Homo sapiens: one gene and its partners. The protein of the gene in region 1 interacts with the protein of each later gene in a pairwise test. Each region holds a gene or a part of one and is shown in the gene's direction. Other genes may lie near its edges.

Region 1 (2,951 bases):
TCTGGAAAGGGGGGGAAAAAAGCAAAAAACAAAATTAAAAAAAATTGATTTCCATATTTTATTTTTCAAAACCCTAAAATATTACAAAATAAGTCCCGCATATACTTTAATGTTTTAACTCTTTTGGACAAAGGAATCAATTACTTGAAGTTGCTTTTTTGACTCTGCCTACTTCTGAGCAAACTATTTGCGACTCACCCACAATTCCTTGGAGATCAAAATCCTACAGATGCCTCCTGATGGGACATAGCCCTAACTCCTTAACAACTGTAGCAAGAACTGCACGGTACAAACCCAAAAAAGAACAAGCTCATCTATTTGGAACCCAAGCCTCATATTTTCTGTCCAGTCAATGTTGGTTACTAAATAGAAAACCTAATTAAGGAAGTAACTTTTTTCCAGGGAGGGGTGGGAGAGGGAATTTAAAAGGTGTCAACTTTTGACCAAAAAAATTGTGCCCTTGTACCGATGCAGCTCTCTTTCTCCCCCACCTCTTGCGAGATAAGAGGGATCATTCATGTAGAAGAAAAGAGTATAAATGCAATTCTGTATCTCGCTAGAGAACGTGTGGGTGACTAAACAAAAAGTGCAGTCTCCTTCACCAACTTTAGACTGCGTGGTGCCACATGCCTGTGGGTCCCTCTTAAAGCACAGACTTAAAATGGAAAGTATTACTGAAGTATAGCCTCTAATGAGGAGTGGCACTTAAACTATCTGGGACACCACTACTGGACACGGTCTTGTAGAGGCAGCTGTCCAGTTTTGGTGCTTGACTCTTGAATAGGAATTGTTAAATGGAAAGATGCTCTGAGGACTAGGTCAAAGCCTGGTCTTTTTTTTTTTTTTTTTTTTTTTCTTTCTTTTTTGGGCCCTCATAATAAGCATTGTTACTATTGGAAGTTGTTTTCACATTCTTTCCAATATTAAATATGTATTTTTTTAAGTAATGATAATATTTTCCAGTGGCTCATTTGGATGAGAACTACCCTCTATTTTTAATATTAAAACTACATCCAACTCATCATTTAGCCTTTGGTTGTACAGTTGTGTAATGGGCTATGGACTGTTACACACCTTACCACCTCTAGGCCTATGTTTTTTCTTTCCCCATATATTCTGATGGGGATAAATACTGTTTTGCCTCTCCCATAGGAATGGAATACATTTATTCTAAAATGATCTTTCACAGAAGTAAGAGAGAGGGAAACCTAAATATACCTCTAAATTGTTTGAAGTTGGTCCCAGCAGCATAAAATGGGTTGGCCCCAAAGGGTTGGAGGGTGGGCTTGGTTATCAGTATTTGTTTTCAGAATGAGATGGGAGCATCTTTCCTTTGCCACGTGCTTTGTGCTTGATAACATCATGCTTGGTTCAAACGACAACTCAGCACAAAGCCTTGAGTATAAATTGTTGGAATCAAAACATCTCATTCTGATGACGTGGTTTAATTTTTTAATTTTTTTTTTTAATAGGGGTGGGAGGGAGGGTACTTTGCCCCAGAAGGGAGGGTGTCTGCACTAAGGATTTAGAAACACTTTGGAAGCTCATAACCTCATCAGAAACTGCCTTTAGCCACACTCCTGACCTTCTAGATGAGTAACAAAAAAATGAAATAAGTTCTTGGAAATTAAGCCATTTATTTTAATTTGCTATTTTTTTCAATGTTCTAGGTATCTTTAAATTTGTTATTGTGGAATCATTTTCCTGCCAGATACCTTTATCAAAATTATTGGCCTCATGAGAGCTGAAGTAAGTCAGCTTTTTGGTGAACTTTAGTGGACTTCTGTGAGATTGTAGTTGTACTTTGTATCTCTAAATCTAAAGATAGTTTTTTAAAACTCCCAAAGAAAATCTGCTCTCCTTTCTGATCTAAAAACTCATCTTTGGGGTAAAGAGTTAAGTGTCCAAAGGTTGTCACAGTTCATGAGGTCAGAGGGAGCTAGCCTGGCACCTGGACTCTGCCCATCCACAGCTGACAGATTCCAACAGAAGTGTATTTAAATTCTCCAGTAGACAATGCTGGGTAAGGGAGGGGGTAGGGCTGGGTTATTAAGATACAGGCTGCTGTATTTTACATTGGTTGTGTGGGAAGGGGAGCCTGGAGAAAACAAAGTCACTATTCCCTTTTTTGAAACAGGAAAAAAAATTATTTTTTGTTCAGTAAAAATGGTAGAGAATTCCAATGTCCCTAGCCACAAGGGACCAGTTCCACTGAGAAGTGAACAGTGGGAACTCAAAATTTCAGAAACATTGGGGGAAGGGAAAATTGGCTTTCTCTTAATTGGCAGATGTTCCAGTGGGGGGGGGGGGGGCTCTGTTTTTGTTGGGATGTGTTATGTTGTATGTACGCATATATGGACCGGAGTCTGCTGAGTTTATAAGGTTCCAAAAATATGGTAAAATCTTGGTTTTTGTTAATTTATCTCAATAAAAGCCCACTGGAACTCCAAATGTGTGTGTGGTATGTCCTTAGTAGCAGCTGTGTGCATAGGAATCTGAGCATTTTGCTCAGGTAATTCATACTGTGAAACAGACATTTCTCAACCCATCATTCCTGTGAAGCCCAGTTGAATTCAGAGCCCCTTCATCTGTTGTAGATACTGTTCCACCATGCTGTCAGATTTCACAGCCTAAATGGAGAACCAAGATAATCGGTTGGGAAGAGGGGAGATGTGGTCCATAATATGTCCAAATACATCAGTAATTACCACCTCCTACAATTGTTCTCAAATGTAAAGCTGAACATACCCCCAAAACCAAGGCATACTACATCTTAACAGTATGAATGGAATTCATATGCTGAGAACTACAAACCACTGATGAAATAAAAGATTGGGAAATAAAAGTTGGGAAAAGCAGACACTTAAAGTTGAGCACATCACTCTCACTACCTCTCTACCCAAAGAAATGCTTAAGTATAACTAAGAAAATAGAGTCAGTCCCCTGTATCT
Region 2 (3,500 bases), on another chromosome or scaffold:
CTCGGCCTCCGAGAGTGCTGGGATTACAGGCGTGAGTCACGCACCCGGCCTGAAGATTCTTAAGGGAGTGATCAGTTCTACCTGCAAAGGTTGGAAGAAGCTTGTACAACTGATTCTTGAATTTTAATTGCATTTAATTAATAGGTGTTGACCAGGATGGGGAGGGCATTTAGGCAGTGCAATTAGAAACAGCCTAAGGAGGAGCCAGGCGCAGTGAGTGGTTCATGCCTGTAATCCCAGCACTTTGGGAGGCCGAGGTGGGTGGATCACTTGAGGTCAGGACTTCGAGACCAGCCTGGCCAACATGGTGAAACCCCGTCTCTACTGAAAATACAAAAATAAGCCAGGCGTGGTGGCAGGTGCCTGTAATCCCAGCTACTTGGGAGGCTGAGGCAGGAGAATCACTTGAACCTAGCAGGCACCCCACTGCACTCCAACTGGGGCGACAAGCAAGACTGTGCCTCAAAACGCGCGCGCGCGCGCACACACACACACACACACACACACACACACACACACAGCCTGAGGAAAGTGAAGAATGGTATCTTAGAGAAGGGAGAGTTTGGTTGCTGTGCAGGATGAAAAATCAAGTTTGAATAGATAGACTGGAGGTCATGGAGGATCTCTTGTCATGCTGAAAACATTAAATTTTATTGTCTTAACAAATGGGCAACAATAGCAGTTTTAAGCAGGGGAGAATCATTATCAAATGTGTATGTGTTTCAATCTAGAGGCACCTGCGTAGTGTGTATGTGGGTTTAGAGTTTGAGGAGAGAACTGGTTGGCAGGATGTTATAATAACCTGAATAGGCCGGGCGCGGTGGCTCAGGCCTGTAATCCCAGCACTTCGGGAGGCCGAGGGGGATGGATCATCTGAGGTCGGGAGTTCGAGACCAACCTGACCAACATGGAGAAACCCCGTCTCTAATTTAAAAACAAAACAAAAAAAAAAAACCGAGCCGGGCGTGGTGGCGCATGCCTGTAATCCCAGCTACTCGGGAGGCTGAGGCAGGAGAATCGCTTCAACGCAGAAGGCAGAGGTTGTGGTGAGCCGAGATCGCGCCCTTGTGCTTGGACAACAAGAGCGAAACTTCGTCTCAAAAATAAAAAATAAAAAATAACCTGAATAACCATCGTCTGTCTGCTCCCTAACACTCACAGGATTAGAATTTCTGGGGATAGTACTTAAGCTACCAAAGAGGATGCCATCACTCAGAGATATAGAGGTGATCAGAAAACTGCAAAAGAGACCTTCTTGTCTTTTTCTCTACCAACTGTTATGATTTGTCATTGCCACTAGCATGTATTTGGCAAAACTTGCTATGGCCTTGTTTGTCTTCCTTCTATAAAATGAATTTGTTCTAAAATTTGGAAATAGAAATTACTGTTTTTGTTCTTTCAGTATATTCCAGTGGGTTGCTGCAGAGTAATATTTTTATGTTTTCAATGCTTTTAGTTTACACTTAAATGTTTGTGTTGGAAATGTCTTTTCTGCTAATTCAGTTATTGGAAAAGGGCTGTAATTGAGTAGGGTAGTAAATACTAATTGCTTGTTTCTTTAACTGAATAACATTTTCCTATTGTTAACGGATTGACTACAGGTGTGCTGTTTGACTTTCTATTACTTGTAACTGAAGTTAGCCTCTCTTCCTCTACCCCCGCAAAAGTGTAGGAGACTGGGTGATGGTCTTGTATTCTCTACAAGTTGGTGGCGTTGTTTAGGCCCCAAGCTGGAATGCTGATGACCCTATGATTCTCTCCCTCCACCCTTTACATCTGTTTTATCATGCAAGTTCTGATGATTTTTAGACTATTTTTCTAGGCTCTGCTTCACACCTCATTGACACCTATCTTCCCTAATTAAGGTCTTTTTTTTCTGGCATGTATGTTGCCCTATTAACAGTAGCTTTCCAGAGGGTACATGGCTCACACCTGTAAACTTAGCACTCTGGGAGGCCAAAGCAGGAGGATTGCTTGAGCCCAGGAGTTTGAGACAAGCCTGGGCAACACAGGGAGACTCTTATCTCTACAAAAATTTAAAAAAATAAAATAACTGGGCGTGGTGGCACACATCTTATAGTCCCAGCTACTTGGGAGACTGAGACAGGAGGATCCCTTGAACCCAGGAGGTTGAGGGTACAATAAGCCATGATCTAACCACTGCACTCCAGCCTGGGTGACAGAGTGACACTGTCTCAAAAAAAAAAAAAAAAAAAGGAAAAATAGCTTTCCAACTGATCACAGTATCTGCAGTCTTCATTCCCTGATAATAAATCTCCACCTTGCTGCCATAGGCATCTCTCCTCTTTGCTATTTCGATTATATCACTGCTTCTGAAAACTCTGTAAGGTGCCTATAGCAATGGTTCTAATATTTGGGAGGGAGAAGGGGATTCAAATCTCTCTCTCTCTTTTTTTTTTTTTTTAAGGAGATAGGGTTTCTCTATGTTGACTGGGCTGGTCTTGAACTCCTGGCTACCAGCCATCCTGTCGCCTTCCAAAGTGCTGAGATTACATGGCGCTCTTGTCAAAATGGATGGACATTTACCTCTGAAATGTGCCCAAGTGCATATTTGCATTCCGTAGGGCTTTTTAGAAAATCACATTGAAGTTCTTTTACAAATCTTAACTTTTGAGGATGCTATAGACCATCTTATGTTTTTTTAAAATGCTGGGTTTTTGTTTTGTTGTTTTTTTTTTTTTTAAATGCCGTCGCATTTACTTGAAGTGCTCATCCACCCATCCCACTCTTGGATCCTTTAAAGCTCTGCTCAGGTCTTGTTTCTTCGAAAAAGCATCCCCACACTTTAAAAACAAAAAACTGGATTAGATACACATGCTTTCTGCTCTTATAACACCTTAAGAGTCTTACCCACTAACAGTAACTTCAAATTAGCAACTGAATCATTTTGCTTCCTAGTGTAGACCCTGGCCAAAGTAGGTATTCATTTAATGTTTATTAAATAAATATGTAAAGTTAGGACTTTTCAAGCATTTTCCTTTGAGTAAAATATTTACTATTTTGTAGCCTATGTTCTGGAAATATTGAACATCTAGATAATAGGTTATAAGGATTTTAACTAACTGGACACTTACCTATATTTTCTAAATTTTGGAAGACTTGATATTGAGGTCTCATCCAGACTAAAGTTTTACTAAATGGCATCTTTACAAATAAAAAAATTCAAGATTTCATATTTAGCTCTGAATGTCTGTTTCTTTAAAATCTCCTTGTTTAGCCAGTTTAGACTAATGTCTGAGCTAATTGTGTTTTCCTTTTTGGGAGAGAGGTTAGAAAAGGTCACTACATTTGAAAAGACCAGTTGTGGAAATAGTAATTTTTTTTAACTTATCAGTGATATCTGATGTTATCAGTATACTAAAAGTGGACATAGAACGTTAAAGAAGGAACCAAAGAGGCAAAGATACCTGGAGTTATTAGGGACCTATTTTGAGATTTTGTCTCTGGCACTAAGAATTTATTAATTTATTGAGTTTAGC
Region 3 (3,500 bases), on another chromosome or scaffold:
CACCCACCCTTCTCAGAAGAGAGCTCTAAGTTGTTCAACATCATTACTGTTGTCCTATCATAGAAAAGGCATTCACCACTCTGTTTTGATGCCACACTCCTGGGAAATGAGAGTTACTGATATAGAAGTAATTATCAATATGTGTGTTTTCAGGGAGCATCAATTTTGTGGAAATGTTCTAGTTTACTTTTGCTTCTAAGATTTGGAGAATCTGGATCCTGGCCTCATGTTTTCAGATATGGTCCGAAATTGACATGTTGAGATGTCAATCAATTACAAATTGAGTAGAATTGATAGATTATGCATTAATGGCCACGGTTTAAAATATGGGGGTTCTACTCTGGAAGACTGAAAGCTCAGTCCCTGCCCCTGTGACTTGGTATCTCTCCTGAAAATGAGCTGTCCTCTGTGAATCTCCTGGTGGCCATGTCTAGCTCCGTCACACTGGCTAGTCAGTCCTTTCAATCCTTAGAATCAGGTCACAGTTTCACTTCAGAGATCTCTTCCATTACAACCAGGCTGGGTAGGGTTGAAGGGTAGCTTTTTGTTTTCGTTTTTGTTTTTTTTGGTAGAGACGGGGCTTCATTATTTTCTCTAGGCTGATCTTGAACTCTCGAGCTCAAGTGATCTACCTGCCTCAGACTCCCAAAGTGTTGGGATTATTACAGGTGTGTGCCCACACGCTGGGCCTAAGGGTACCTTTTTATGTCTGCCCAGGGCTTGGCACAGTCTCACTGGCCTTCACCAAATATTTCCCTGCCTTGACTCCAAGATTTCCTTGCTGTTCTTTACCAACCAGAAAAATCATTGTTGTCATTGTTAGATTGTAGAAGGTAAGATTGAAGTTCTCACATGAGATATTAAAAACCATGTCCTTTGAGACCAGTATCATAGTTCAAACTCAGCCATGTGGATTTGAAGTTAAGATTAACTCGTATATATGAATGCATATATGTATAAATAGTACTAAAATAAACGGTATAAGGTTGTGTATTTTCTATGGGAAAGCAGTGTCCTAAGTTGTTTACATGTGTTACCTTACTTAATTCTCACAGCCACCCTATGTTGGTGCTATCCTTGTCCCTATTTATTCTCATTTTATAGATGGGGCACAGAGACATTGTGTGACTTGCTCAACAATAAACAGCTAATAAGGGCTGTGCGTGGTGGTTCACACCTGTAATCCCAGCACTTTGGGAGGCTGAGGTGGGCGGATCACCTGTGGTCAGGAGTTTGAGACCAGCCTGGCCAACATGGCAAAACGCCATCTCTACTAAACATACAAAAATTAGCTGGGTGTGGTGGCACGCACCTGTAATCCCAGCTACTTGGGAGGCTGAGGTAGGAGAATCACTTGAACCCAGGAGGCACAGGTTGCAGTGAGCCAAGATGGCGCCACTGTGCTCCAGCCTGGGAGACAGAGGCAGACTCCATCTTAAAAAAAAAAAAAAAAAAAATGGGCAGCTAGTAAGTCTAGCCAGGATCACATCCAGAGTTCCAAGCAATACTCCTAGTCAATAGTAGCACTGCTACTGATTGCTTTTTCTTTTCTTTTCTTTCTTGTTTTTTTTTTTTTTTTTTTTTTTTTGAGACAGAGTCTCACTCTGTTACCCAGGCTGGAGTGCAGTGGTACACTCTTCGCTCACTGCAACTTCTGCCTCCTGGGCTCAAGCAATCCTCCCATCTCATCATCCCAAGTAGCTGGGACTACAGGCGTGTGCCACCACGCCTGGCTAATTTTTATATTTTTTTCGTAGGGACTGGGTATCGCCATGTTGCCCAGGCTGGTCTCGAAGTCCTGAGCTCAAGCAATCCATTGTCCACCTTGGCCTCCCAAAGTGCTGGGGTAACAGGCAAGAACCGCCGTGCCCAGCCTTGCTAGTAATTTTCATGAACTAACTCATCTAATTCTCACTGCAGCTCTATGCAAGAGATATTATCAGTATCACTCCTTTACAGAAGAGGAAAGGGAGGCCACAGATGTTTAAGTGATTTGCTCAGAGCTAGAGTCATAACCCTGGCACCTGGCTCCTAAGCCTCTGCTTCTTGCCACTATACATCGTCATTCAAATCCCTCAGCTCATTCTAAGGTTTCAAAGAAGAATGTAAGTTAAATATTGCCAATATCTGTAAACACATGAATGACCTCAGTCCCTGTTCAGACACGGGGTTGGTGTTGGTTTGGGGGAGGGGAAATAAACACCAAGAATCATCTCTGAATTGATCTCCACTCTTTGCATTGCTGTGTTACTCCTGTTTCAGACCTCACCTCCACCCGCGACAACCCAGTCCCCTGAAAGCACTATGGATACCTCACTGAAGAAGGAGAAGTCAGCCATCCTGGATCTTTATATTCCTCCTCCGCCTGCTGTTCCCTACTCTCCCCGGTATGTTGCTGTCCATTGTCATGGTATGCTTGTCTCCTGTTGGTGTCATTTGTAAATGGTGGTGTGAAAAGAGGATCTTGAGAGAGGAAGTTGCTGAGCCACAGTGTGACAGGGCTGAATCTTGAACTGCCGTTAAAAGTATGATCAGCCTTATTTTATAGGAGTGTAGGGACATATCTGGGTTCTGTGGGGCTTGAAGCTATACAGTTTGGTGGGGAGGGCCCTTCTGAGAAAAGAATATGGCAGTATTGGCCAGGTGTGGTCGCTCACACCTGTAATCCCAGCACTTTGGGTGGCTGAGGCGGGCAGATCACTTGAGCTCAGGAGTTCAAGACCAGCCTGGGCAACATGGTAAAACCTCATCTCTATAAAAAAATACAAAAATTAGCTGAGTTTGGTGGCAGATGCCTGTAGTCCCAGCTACTCAGGAGGTTGAGGCAGGAAAATCGCTTGAGCCTAGGAGGTGGAGGTTGCAGTGAGCAGAGTTTGTGCCATTGCAATCCAGCCTGGGTGACAGAGCGAGACCCTGTCTCAAAAAAGAAACAAAAGGATATAGCAATACCTTACTTTTGAAAAACGAATGAAAACGTGCTCTCCTGGGGCCTTGGAAGGGTCTATTGGGGGCCCTGCAGGTTAAGTTTCATTAACTCCATGGTAAATTCATCTTGAGGGGGTAGATAATAAGTATTTCTGTGAGATTAATGAGAGTTGCAGCTTGATTTTGCTGAGAAAGATGTGTTCTTCATAGAACTTGAAAAAAAACCTATGTGGCCAGGTATGGTGTCTCACGCCAATATTTCCAGCACTTTGGAAGGCCAGTTCAGAGGATTGCTTGAGCCCAGAAGTTCAAGACCAGCCTGGGGAATATAGTGAGGCCCCATCTCTACAAAAAATTTAAAAAATTAGCTGGGTGTGGTTGTGTGCACCCGTGGTCCTAGCTACTCAGGAGGCTGAGGTGGTAGGATCACTGGAGCCCAGGAGGTCGAGGCTGCAGTACAATACACCATGATCATACCACTGCACTCCAGCCTGGACAACAGAGTGAGACCTAGTCTCAAAAACAAAAAAACAAAAAACAGAAAAACTCAGACCTTGTGAGTGTAGGTATGAACA
Region 4 (4,034 bases), on another chromosome or scaffold:
TACAAAAATGGCACCTTTTTCACATAATTATTACCGTAAAAAACATAACATTTCCTTTTGAGGTGACAACAAAGTTCTGGAGCTAGATAGTGGTGATGGTTGTACAACATTGATAATGTACTGGGTTGTATACTTTAAAATGGTTAAAATGTTAAATTTTATGTTATGTGTATTTTGCCACGATAATTTAAAAAATGACCACACAATACCTTCAGTCAGGAGAATTGGAAGACAGGGCTATATGTTGGTTTGGAGAGGAAATTCAGACGTACGAGAAATATCCAATGTTTTATTATTTTTAGACATAACATTTATTTGTCTGAGAATGTTCTAAATTTTCAAAGGTAAAATTACAATTCATGTAAATGTAAAAAGAATATGTGAAAGATTTTTCAACACAATCAACAACTGCTAGGATTAAGAAAACAGTTGAAGGGTATATGTGTATATACAATATACACAATATGAAGATATAAACAAAACATTGAATTTCATAAACACATAGGAAATTAATAAATGTTAGAATAACACTGCCAGGTTAAATATAAAACGGGTTAATATCTTACAGGGCAATAAATTGTAACATTTAAGGTTTTCTATTGCACTGGACATAAATCATTTACATATTTATTGAATAAAATATCTACATGTTAACATCAGTGTCTACAGAGTTGAAAAATAGGTAAATCAATAGACATCCTGCACTGCCCTGAAATGACATCCAGTAACTGAAGGTGACTTTATCTAAGTTTGGTATAATTTTTCTGACAGTGCAACATGCTTTTTTTCCCCACCTGATCCTAGTTTGGTAAGGTAATATGGAAGTGGCAGTTTTGCCTCCCATCGCAAGCCATAAGTTTTAACAGGGATTATCCTGGTGGTGCAAATTGGAGTTTGAATGTTTGTTTTGCTTACCAGCATTTTTCAAGACAGATCTGTGTGTGTTTTAGTATGTCGCTTGAGTCGTATACAAAATATTAAAAATCACTTCATTTCCCAAATCCTCATCGAATGTTCCTCGCCAGCCGAGTGGTCCTCCAGAGCAAAGGCCAGCCTTCCTTCCAGCTGTCTGGCCAAGGAGCTTCAGGATCTTCTAGCAAGCACCCCAGAGGCAGAAGACTGTCATCCATGGTACAGGACTGCGGCGAACAAGCTGACTGCGCAGTCACGTGGGGCTGACGGTGGGTCATGTGACCAGGCTCTGCATTAGGCCTGCCGAGAGGAGTGTTTTCTTGCATCCAGAAAAGACCTGAGAGGCGGACGACACCTGTGCTCCGCAGAGCAGAACGTGGGAGGAACGGCGGGATGTTAAGGTAGGTAGGTGTCTTTCCATGCTGCATCAGCCTGAAAACTAATTTCTCAGGCGACTGGAACTACAGCATTTGTTGGTAAAGGAAACAATCCGTCAGCCAACCGGGAGCGTCTTAGCCCGTCTGTCTTTTGTCCAGGAGCTCAAGAAGCAGAGAGTCTACCTGCCCGACGCGTTCGTGGAGAGGAGCAGCGGTTGCTGTTGGAGGAGGTGGGTGCAAGGACGGCAGATGGCATCCCTGAGAGGTGGTGACTGAGACTAGATGCGGGTGCAGGTAATGCCTCAGATCCGCCTGCTCCCTCCTGCCTTTTGAACACCCTTGACCCCTCATCCCAAGGCTCCCAGCCCAGTGCCCTGTGTTTGTATGTGTGGGTGGGGGAGGTGGGCATATGGATGGAGTTGGCTTCAGGGGAGCCCAGAGCGGGGAAATGGTGAAGTGACAATTCGTGAACACCTGTGGTGCTGGATCAGGAAAGGCAGGGGTGGGGATGGGAACCGTGAGCTATGCGTCCGCACTCATTCTACTCTCTGTCTTCTTACTGGCAGTATTCAGGCAGTGGGGATGGCTGATACCAGCTCAAAACTGGCGGAGGGTGGAGGAGGGCAGAAGAGAACACATACATCTGCCTTTTGCTCCAAGGCTCCAGCTGGCTGGGGATGCAAGAGAGGAATGAACCTCAATCCCGGCAGTTCTAGGAAAAGGAGGAGGAGACATAGACTCGAGGGGAGGAAACCTAGATGCTGTGGGCCCTTCACCTAGGATTTCTCATTAGGATACTCCAAGCTTCTCGACCCCCAAGGGGATTCCTGGATCTCAGCCCCATGCAGCAGGATCTCATTCCCATTGAGGGACACAAAGTGGGTTGCTACTCCGTGTGAGCTCTCTCTCCCTGCTGTCTTGGGCCTCAGAGGAGGGTCTTTCTGGGGACCACCTACAGAAACTGCTTCATGGATAGTCTCCTAAGTTTCCCTCTGCATACCCTTTGCTCTCTTGTGTTGTGATCTCTGCTCATTCCTTAGGATGTGTTTCTTTGGTCCCATCCTAGGTAGCAGCCCCATGGTAAGTCCTTGTCCTCTTTCACATCGAGTATCCTCCTTTCCCCCTACCCCATGCACCCACTGGGTACCAAGTGAAAGAAAATGGTTCCTCTACCCACAATACTTCTGGCACAGAATGTGTGGATTTTTCACACCAAGCAATTCTCTTATTCTTTGAGGACATCAGCTAGGTATTCTACAATTTAATTCAATTCTGATACTACCCAGAGTTAGTGCAGACCTCTCTGGTTAAGGGCTCATTCCCATAAGACTGCCCTCCCTCACTTCAGACAACAGTCACAAGTAATGGATCTCCATGTCACCCACACTTCTGTCTGACTTAGCTACTAGTTGGAAGTTCCCACAACCCCCTCCTCAGGTTCAATAATTTGCTATAAGGGCCCACAGAACTCAGGGAAACACTACTTCCTATTACTGGTTCATTATAAAGGATATAAATCAAAAGCCAGATGAAGAGGTACATATGGCAAGGTCCAGAAGGGTCCCAAATGCAGAAGCTGCCATCCATGTGGATTTGGGGTACACCACCTTCCCAGAATATGAATGAGTTCACCAACCTGGAACCTCTCAGACATTTGGGATTTTTATAGAGGTTTCATTACATAGGCGTGATTGATGAAATCATTGACCATTGGTGATTAGCTCAATCTTCAGCCCCTCTCTTCTCCTTGGAGGTCAAGGGGTGAGGCTGAAAGTTCCAACCCTCTAATCATGCCTTGGTCTTTCTGGTGACCATCCATATCTTGAAGCTATCTAGTGCACCCACCAGTCATCTCGGAACATAAAAAAAGACACCTATCACTCCAGAGATTCCAAGGGTCTTAGTGTCAAGAACTTGAGACTAAAGCCACATGTAACAAAAGATGCTTCCGTTATCCCTATCAGGAAATAGCAAGGGTTCTAGGAGCTCTATGCCAGGAATATGGGACAAAGAATTATGGTTACCAAAGGCTGGAAAGGGTATTGGGGATGGGGTATAAAAAGGAGTTGGTTAATGGGTACAACAATACAGTTAGAAGGAATATGATCTAGTGTTCAGTAGCACAATAGGGTGCCTATAGTTAACAATAGTTATTATATATTTCAGTATAATTAGAAGAATAGATTTGGAATGTCCTCAGTGCAACAAAATGATAAATATTTAAGGTGATGTATATCTCAATTACATTACACATTCTATGCTTATATCAAAATATAATTTATACCCCATAAATATGTACAAATATTGCATATCCATGTGAATTAAAAATTTTAAAAAATTTTAAAAATAACTCATTTCAAATTTCAATCAAAATAAAAAAGATCAAATGCTGATTTCTTCATATATCACAATACATACAAAGTCAGTGTAAGAAAGTGTTGCTAGGAAGAAATGACTTTTTCTAATCCCACTCCTATCCTTATGTTTATACCAAGTTTATAGAGTTGAAACTATGTTGTTCTACTACTTTAAGCCCTCCTATTTAGACTTAAAAGCTAGGATAGATACAAGGTATGTGGGGCAAAATCATAGGTAGAGATTAGTCCCTAGGACTGCATCCTCGTCTCCTACCCTCTCCTATTATTTTCTTCTCTTTACTCTCCAGAATTCTGATAATATAAGTACTGGGGCCAGCATTCAGCTTATGGTTTTCTACTCAAGCTGTCTTGTCTCTTGTCTCTGTGT

Evidence for each region.
Region 2: the proteins of DDX6 (region 1) and ZBTB10 interact in binary tests that used the Homo sapiens proteins (3 or more experiments, as listed by UniProt).
Region 3: the proteins of DDX6 (region 1) and CNKSR3 interact in binary tests that used the Homo sapiens proteins (3 or more experiments, as listed by UniProt).
Region 4: the proteins of DDX6 (region 1) and GPRASP3 interact in binary tests that used the Homo sapiens proteins (3 or more experiments, as listed by UniProt).

What each region holds. Positions count from the first base shown.
Region 1 is NC_000011.10:118,747,263-118,750,213, reverse strand, and holds the end of DDX6 (probable ATP-dependent RNA helicase DDX6), read left to right. Parts: 3' UTR 1-2,451; downstream 2,452-2,951.
Region 2 is NC_000008.11:80,492,726-80,496,225, forward strand, and holds part of ZBTB10 (zinc finger and BTB domain-containing protein 10), read left to right. Parts: intron 1-3,500. UniProt on the Homo sapiens protein: May be involved in transcriptional regulation.
Region 3 is NC_000006.12:154,413,186-154,416,685, reverse strand, and holds part of CNKSR3 (connector enhancer of kinase suppressor of ras 3), read left to right. Parts: intron 1-2,262; coding exon 2,263-2,387; intron 2,388-3,500. UniProt on the Homo sapiens protein: Involved in transepithelial sodium transport. Regulates aldosterone-induced and epithelial sodium channel (ENaC)-mediated sodium transport through regulation of ENaC cell surface expression.
Region 4 is NC_000023.11:102,719,509-102,723,542, forward strand, and holds the start of GPRASP3 (G protein-coupled receptor associated sorting protein 3), read left to right. Parts: upstream 1-1,234; 5' UTR 1,235-1,317; intron 1,318-1,448; 5' UTR 1,449-1,583; intron 1,584-1,855; exon of another isoform or gene 1,856-4,034. UniProt on the Homo sapiens protein: Survival and differentiation promoting protein that plays a role in the regulation of neurosynaptogenesis. Induces phosphatase PP2A activity which results in APP dephosphorylation and inhibits BACE1-mediated processing of APP.